Regions from separate parts of the Homo sapiens genome. Here regions 2 and 3 are each linked to region 1. Evidence: fine-mapped expression QTL. A gene starts in region 1. Each other region holds a variant in brackets. All regions are shown on one strand. Distances are from middle to middle. Region 1 holds the start of ZDHHC12 (zDHHC palmitoyltransferase 12). Region 2 has its middle 4.9 kb from the start of DYNC2I2. Region 3 has its middle 2.8 kb from the start of TRR-TCT3-1.

Region 1 (2,500 bases):
GAGAATCACTTGAACTTGGGAGGTGGAGGTTGCAGTGAGCCCAGATCGCGCCACTGCACTCCAGCCTAGGCAACAGAGTGAGGCTCTGTCTCAAAAAAAAAAAAAAAAAAAAGGTGGGCATTCATTGACTCTTGCAACCAGGGGATGCAGAGTCAGTATCAGCTTCAGGGACAGCCGGATCTAGAGGGCTCAGACAATGTTGTTCAGACCATCTCTTGCTCCCTCCTTTAGTGCTGCTTATCCATCTCTATGTGTCTTTATAAGTTGGTCTCATTTTCTCCAGCCACAGACAGGGTAAGCCCTCTCCGCCCAGCGTAAAGACGGCTCCCAGTTGCCTTATATCCCATTCCTTAGGCTTGAGATCCAAAAGAATGCTCCTTCCTCTCAGCATCTAGACAGTAATCTCATGGAAGGCCTGTGATTGGTTCTGCAGAGTCGAAAGCCCACAGCCTGCCGCTCGCCATCCTATGGGGTGAGGGGCAGTCCCTCCAATCACATGGGATGGGAAGTCGATTCCCCAACCAAAAAAAGGATGTTGAGCTGAGAAAAACAACAGATGTCAGAGGAGTATCCTGGAGGAGCTGGGATGGGGCCAATCAGAGGGAGGCGGAGGAGGATGCTGGTATCAGTGGGAGGTGCTGTGGAAAGGCGGGGCTGAGTGGAGAAGGCCCTGGGGACACAGGGAAGGAGGACAGCCTGCAGCCTCCGGTGAGGAAAGTCCGCCTGTAGGTGGTGGCTCACAGCAGGAGAGGCAAGACAGTCCCGTGCTAGACAAGGCGCTTCCATTATTTAATCCTCCCAAACACCTTAGGAGGAAGACACTATTGTAATCCCCCTTATAGAGACAGAAAACAGCTCAGAGGGGCTCAGTAACTCGCCCAGGGTCACACAGGTAGGAAGGGGCAGTGCTGGGATTTCTGACTCCCGCCTAAGTTGGATCACCCATAGTCAGAATGTGCACCACGTACCTCCACTTTTCTCTCGTCCGTTTGCAATATCTGAGAATACATAGCAAGGAGGTAAAGCTGTCACCACAGAGCAACCTTGGGCGAGCCTTGGCCCTCTCGAGACTTTAGTCATCACATCTTTGAAATGGGTACAATTTTGCCTCCCGGACTCACAGCAAGCCGCTGGATCTTCGAAGCGCCCAGGGAGCTACGCGCATGCGCGAGGCTGCGAGGGCGGGCACAGGGGAACGCGGGGGAGGGCACAGCGGAGCGCGGGGGAGGTGCGCGCGCGCTCCGGCGCTTTCAAAAGTTACCTGGCGGGTGGGGCTGGAGTTGAGGGAGTTACCAGCTGCGCGCGCGCCGGCCCCACCCTCAGCCTCTTCAGGCACCTGTTGGCTTGAGGGTCCATTCGGCCGCAGATGCCATCCAATAGGCAGCCTCCCTGACCCAGTCCGGCCCCGCCCAACGCCTAGATCCACCAGTCCCCGGGCGGCGGCGTTCCCCTCCCTCGGAGGGCCCGCCCCTCTGGGCGCTTCTTCCGGGTGGGGCCCCGGGCCGAGGCGATGGCGCCCTGGGCGCTCCTCAGCCCTGGGGTCCTGGTGCGGACCGGGCACACCGTGCTGACCTGGGGAATCACGCTGGTGCTCTTCCTGCACGATACCGGTGAGCCGGACCCCGAGCGACCCCGGACCCACCCGATCCCGCGTACTTCCCCAGACGTTCTGGTCACACTGGGTCTCCCGCCTAATCCCTGGAGATCCTGGGATTGGCCCGATCTCCACCAGCTCCTGAAGCCCTCTCCCCATCTATCATTCCAAGAGCCACCTGCTCTCTGTCTGATACCCCGTTGATCCCTAATTAATCCCAGCATCTTCCTGATCATTGCCAAATGCCCTGTCCATCCCAGGACCCAGCCGGTGCCCACCAGATCCAAGGACCGACTTGAGCCCCATGTCCCCTGATCCTGGGACCCACATGATCCTTCCCAGGAACTGACCCCAAATCTTCCTATCCATACGATTAGGAGGCTCAACTAGATGCAAAGATTGGCATTCTGCCCACACCCACACCCCCCACACCCCCATGGCCACTAGCTGCCCAAGTCCAGGCAAACCCTCAGGCCAGAGAACACTCCATGGGGTGCGGCCTGTCTCCCATCTTCCCACAGATTCACCCACCCACCCACCTCCATTTCCCTCATTCCTCTTAGTAGCCCCCTACCCAGCGCCTCACCTGCCACAGGCAGCCTCCCCCACTGTCCCCCACAGCAGACCCCAGCCCTCCTTCCATGGCGGTCCAGCCTCAGTTTCTGGACTGGGGCCCCTTCTGGCTTTCCTCCCAAGACAGACCTCCTCCACCACCTTCACCCTTTAGCCTAAAAACTTGCTCAGGTCTCCGTATCAGAAAACCCCCCTCAAAACCCACCCTTTCTTCTCTGCTCCCCCTTACAACCAAGGGACACAGGATTTGTCTACACTCTGCTGTCTGGTGGTCTCATGCCCCCTCACTCCTTGCCCTGCACCCTACCTCCCCAAAATCCTGTCACCTCCCTG
Region 2 (2,845 bases), 63 kb after region 1:
ATGAAAAAAAAACATGATAGATAAATAAATAATCCACTGGCAGAGATCAGAGAGGTTCAATCTGGATCATTAAGAATGAATTGGGGCCGGGCGCCGTGGCTCACGCCTGTAATCCTAGCACTTTGGGAGGCTGAGGCAGGCGGATCACCTGAGGTCAGGAGTTTGAGACCAGCCTGGCCAAACCCCATCTCTACCAAATATACAAAAATTAGCCAGGTGTGGTGGCCCACGCCTGTAGTCCCAGCTACTCAGGAGACTGAGACATGAGAAATGCTTGAACCTGTGAGGCAGAAACTCCGTCTCAAAAGAAAAAAAAGGCTGGGTGCAGTGGCTCACTCCTGTAGTCCCAGCACTTTGGGAGGCCAAGGCAGGTGGATCACCCGAGGTCAGGAGCTCGAGACCAGCCTGGCTAACATGGTGAAACCTACAAAAATTAGCCCAGCATGGTGGCAGTTGTCTGTAATCCCAGCTACTCTGTAGGCTGAAGCAGGAGGATCACTTGAACCTAGGAGGTGAAGGTTGCAGTGAGCCAAGATCGTGCCACTACACTCCAGCCTGGGGGATAGAGTGAGACTCTGCCTGCAAAAAAATAAATAAATAAATTAGCCATGAATGGTGGCGGGTGCCTGTAATCCCAGCTACTCGGGAGGCTGAGGCAGGGAGAATTGCTTGAACCCAGGAAGTAGGTTGCAGTGAGCCGAGATCGCGCCATTGCACTCCAGCCTGGGCAACAAGAGCAAAACTCCATCTCAAATAAAACAAAACAAAACACCCAAGACTGTAACACTTGTGTTTTGGAATTATGAATATCCTGCTGCTTTATGTCCAGTATCCATCTGTAGGGCACACCAGCCTCTCAACACAAAGAGCATGGGCAGATGGCGCTTTCATTATGGCCACCATTGATTGAGCCCCCTTCAGGTTTCAGGCTCTTTTTTTTTTTCCCCAAGACGGAGTCTCGCGCTGTTGCCCAGGCTGGAGTGCAATGGCGCAATCTCGGCTCACTGCAACCTCCGCCTCCCAGGTTCAAGTGATTCTCCTGCCTCAGCCTCCAAAGTAGCTGGGACTACAGGCACATGCAACCATGCCCAGCTAATTTTTTGTATGTTTAGTAGAGATGGGGTTTCTTTTTTTTTTTTGAGATGGAGTCTCGCTCTGTCGCCAGGCTGGATTGCAGGGGTGCAATCTCGGCTCACAGCAACCTCCACCTCCCAGGTCCAAGTGATTCTTCTGCCTCTGCCTCCCTAGTAGCTGGGATTACAGGCGCCTGCCACCACGCCCAGCTAATTTTTGTATTTTTAGTAGAGACGGGGTTTCACCATGTTGGCTAGGCTGGTCTCCAACTCCTGACCTCAGGTGATCCGCCTACCT[C/T]GGCCTCCCAAAATGCTGGGATTACAGGCATGAGCCACCAAGCCCGGCCGGCTTTTTTTCAGACATTCATCCCCTGAGGATCAAGTAAGTGTGATTGTTATTAGGACCTGATGCATGGGAGCCTCCAAAGTAGCTGGGAATACAGGTGCCTGACACCACGCCCGGCTAATTTTTTGGTTTGTCTTTTTCTGAGACAGAGTTTCACTCTTATTGCCCAGGCTGGAGTGCAACGGCTCAATCTCGGCTCACTCCAACCTCCACTTCCTGGGTTCAAGCGATTCTCCTGCCTCAGACTCACGAGTAGCTGAGATAACAGGCACCCGCTATGTCACCCGTATAATTTTTGTATTTTTGTAGAGACAAGGTTTCACCATGTTGGCCAGGCTGGTCTTGAACTCCTGACCTCAGGTGATCTGCCCACCTCGGCCTCCCAAATTGCTGGATTACAGGCGTGAGCCACCATGCCAGGCTGGTTTTTCTTTTTGTTTTTTTTTTTTTTTTTTTGAGATGGAGTCTCACTCTGTTACCCAGACTGGAGTGCAGTGGGGTAGCAATTCTCCTGCCTCGGTCTCCGGAGTAGCTGGGATTACAGGCATGCACCACCACATCTGGCTAATTTTTGTATTTTTAGTAGAGACAGGGTTTCACCATGTTCATCAGGCTGGTCTGGAACTCCTGACCTCAGGTGATCCACCTGCCTTGGCCTCCCAAATTGCTGGGATTACAGGCGTGAAACATTGCGGCCGGCTCAACACAACAACCTCATTATTAAAACAGCTTTGACCTGGCGCAGTGGCTTTTGCCTGTAATTCCAGCACTTTGGGAGGCTGAGGTGCGCAGATCCTGAGGTCAGGAGTTCGAGACCAGCCTGGCCAATATGGTGAAACCCCGTCTCTACTAAAAATACAAAAATTAGCCGGGTGTGGTGGTGCATGCCTGTAGTCCCAGCTACTTGGGAGGCTGAGGCAAGAGAATCACTTGAACTCAAGAGGTGAAGGTTGCAATGAGCCGAGATTGTGCCACTACACTTGAGCCTGGATGACAGAGCGTGACACCATCTCAAAAACATAAATAAATAAATAAAAAATAAAAATAAAATTAGACAGCTTTGTCAGGCCAGGCATGGTGGCCCATGCCTATAATCCCAGTACTTTGGGAGGCTGAGGTGGGCGGATCATGAGGTCAGGAACTCGAGACCATCCTGGCTAACATGGTGAAAGCCTGTCTCTACTGAACATACAAAAAATTAGTTGAGCGTGGTGGCATGCGCTACTCTGAAGGCTGAGGCAGGAGAATCGCTTGAACCCGGGAGGCAGCAGTTGCAGTGAGCCAAGATCACACCACTGCAGTCCACTCTGGGCAACAGAACAAGACTGTTTAAAAAAAAAAAGAAATAATAGGCAGGGCACAGTGGCTCATGCCTGTAATCCCAGCACTTTGGGAGGCCGAGGTGGGCAGATCACAAGGTCAGGAG
Region 3 (2,845 bases), 390 kb after region 1:
CTTGAGTAAATTCCAGCACCACATCCTTCATGGGTATCACCATCAGGAGGCAGAATGTGCAGTGGTATGGGCATGAGCATTGAGTTCGCCTTCTCAGCTGAAAGGTCAAGATTCATTTTGTTCTTACATATAAAAAATGGGACATACTAATTAATAATACCTCACAGGGTCAGCGTGGAGATTTGTGGGGAGTATTTTTTTTTTTTTTCCGAGACGGAGTCTTGCTCTGTCGCCCAGGCTGGAGTGCAGTGGCGCGATCTCGGCTCACTGCAAGCTCCGCCTCCCAGGTTCACGCCATTCTCCTGCCTCAGCCTCCCGAGTAGCTGGGACTACAGGCGCCCGCCACCAGGCCCAGCTAATTTTTTTGTATTTTTTTTAGTAGAGACAGGGTTTCACCGTGTCAGCCAGGATGGTCTCGATCTCCTGACCTCGTGATCCACCCGCCTCAGCCTCCCAAAGTGTTGGGATTACAGGCATGAGCCACTGCGCCTGGCACAACATTTCTTGAATGAATGAAAGGGAGAGTGAATTGGAGGCTCTGACCTTATGCACACCAGGATTCGTGAGTATAATCATGAGTACTTCCACATCAACTACTGAGGTCATATGCAAGTGGGCAGGTGAGAGTTAGCGGGAGGATGCTGGTGACCAGCCACCTGCTCTCCTTCAGTCAGGCTCGTCACACTGGAGAAACCAAAGCAGTACCACCGGACATTGGATCAGGCCTGAGGGGGAGAAGCAAGACAACACAGAACAGGACAGCCTGCCTTTCAGTTGCTTACAGTCTAGCTGGCCGCACAGAGGACAGGTGGAAGTGAGATGGAATAGGTCATCCCTCACTCAGTGCTCACTGTGCTGGTGTCACGCTCATCACAGTATTGTCATTAAAATTTTTTAATTTTTTTTTTTTGAGATGGGGTCTCACTCCTGTTGCCCAGACAATCACAGCTGACTGCAGCCTTCACCTCCTGGGCTCAGGTGCTCCTGCTACCTCAGCCTCCTGGGTAGCTAGGGCTACAGGTGTGCGCCACCACACCTGGCTAATTTTTTGTATTTTTAGTAGAGACGAGGTTTCATCATGTTGTTCAGGCTAGTCTGGAACTCTTGAGCTCAAGTCATCTGCCCCCCCAGGCCTCCCAAAGTGCTGGGACTCCAGGCATGAGCCACCCCCCGCCAAGCTCTACCAACAAAATAATTTCAGAGTGGTGAATGCTCTAAAGAAAATAAGGGCATAGTGCAGTGGCTCATATCTGGAATACCAGCACTTTGGGAGGTCAAGGCAGGAAGATGGCTTGAGGCCAGGAGTTCAAGACCAGCCGAGCCAACATAGCAAGACCCTGTCTCTACAAAAGAAAAAAAAAAAAAAAAAGCCGGGCCCGGTGGCCCACACCTGTAATCCCAGCACTTTGGGAGGCTGAGGCGGGGGGATCACAAGATCAGGA[G/A]TTTGAGACCAGCCTGACCAACATGGTGAAACCACATCTCTACTAACAATTAAAAAAAAAATCAGCCGGGCGTGGTGGCAGGCACCTGTAATCCCAGCTACTCGGGAGGCTGAGGCAGGAGAATCGCCTGAACCCAGTAGGTGGGAGGTTGCAGTGAGCCGAGATCACGCCATTGCACTCCAGCCTGGGCGACAGAGTGAGACTCCATCCACTCCCCCCGCCAAAAAAAAAAAAAAAAAAAAGAAACCACTTGACTGGGCACGGTGGCTCAGGCATGTAATCCTAGCACTTTGGGATGCCAAAGTGGGCAGATCACCTGAGGTCAGGATTTCGAGACCAGCCTGGTCAACATGGTGAAACCCCGTCTCTACTAAAAATAAAAATTAGCTGGACATGGTGGTGCACCCCTGTAATCCCACCTACTTGGGAGGCTGAGGCAGGAGAATTGCTTGACCCTGGGAAAGGGAGGTTGCAGTAAGCTGAGATCACGCCATTGCACTCCAGCCTGGGTGACAGAGCGAGACTCCATCTCAAAACAAAAAAACAAAAAAAAACAAAACAAACAAAAAAAACTTAGCTAGGCGTGGTGGCATGCATCCATAGGCCCAGCTACTAGGGAAGCTAAAACAAGAGGATCCTGGAGCCCAGGAGGTCGAGGCTGTAGTGAGCCGTCATAGTGGCACTGCACTCCAGCCTGGGTGACAGAATGAGACCCCATCTCAAAAAATAAATAATAATAAACAGAAGATGATAGCATGGAGAGAGGCAGAGGGGGACTAGGGACTGCTTTAGATGGCAGGAAGCCCAGGAAGACATCTCTGCTGTGACATTTGAGCAGAGATGTGAATGACAAGGAGCTCACCATGTAACAACCTGGGGACACGGTGCTGTTCCCAAAGGCAGGAAGAAGCCTGGTGTGTTCAGGGAGCAGGATGAAGGCAAGCATGGTTTACTGAGATGGGAGAATAGACGTTTCTAGGCAGAAGTTGGTAGGGCCTCACCAGTGATTACCTATAGCCAGTTTGATTTTTCTCCAATCATGAGCTGGTAACACAAATGCCACCCTATACTCAGGAGACCAGACTCCATTCCCAGCTAAGCCTGATGCTTTGTGTCCATCTCACAAGTGCTACAAAGGCCCAGGGTTGTCCAGGCACTGCCTGCCTAGAGCAGGTGAGCTGCTCAGCTGGGCAGTGAAGGCCATCTGTCTGACCTCCGCTGCCACCCTGGCACTGTTGACTTTAGTGAGCTGCAGTGGGGGTGCCTGGGACCCTGGGAAGCTGCAGAAACAGCTGGCAGGTCTGCAGAGACTGGTGAGGTATGGGGACTCACTAGCATGGCCTCCTTTTCCCGCAGATTCAAGGAGCTCAGAACAAGGTTTCCCTCCTGAAAAGTCCATGGTT

What was found. PIP is the estimated chance that this variant, and not a neighbour inherited with it, causes the effect.
Region 2: its variant is fine-mapped to the expression of ZDHHC12 in whole blood (TOPMed, PIP above 0.99).
Region 3: its variant is fine-mapped to the expression of ZDHHC12 in T cells (TOPMed, PIP 0.99).

What each region holds. Positions count from the first base shown.
Region 1 is chr9:128,723,104-128,725,603 of GRCh38, reverse strand. ZDHHC12 (zDHHC palmitoyltransferase 12) reads left to right here and starts at 1,477. Exons shown (of 5, transcript NM_032799.5): 1 at 1,477-1,610. The coding sequence starts at 1,511. It overlaps ZDHHC12-DT (ZDHHC12 divergent transcript), which reads right to left and starts at 1,142. Exons shown (of 2, transcript NR_046240.1): 1 at 969-1,142. RefSeq lists a silencer at 1,109-1,588.
Region 2 is chr9:128,660,335-128,663,179 of GRCh38, reverse strand. It overlaps a transcript of DYNC2I2 not described here and the pseudogene HMGA1P4. Among named protein-coding and RNA genes, the nearest start is that of DYNC2I2, 4.9 kb to the right of the region's middle. The variant C/T (reference allele first, on the strand shown) is at 1,372.
Region 3 is chr9:128,335,967-128,338,811 of GRCh38, reverse strand. No RefSeq gene overlaps it. Among named protein-coding and RNA genes, the nearest start is that of TRR-TCT3-1, 2.8 kb to the left of the region's middle. RefSeq lists a silencer at 1,395-1,553. The variant G/A (reference allele first, on the strand shown) is at 1,443.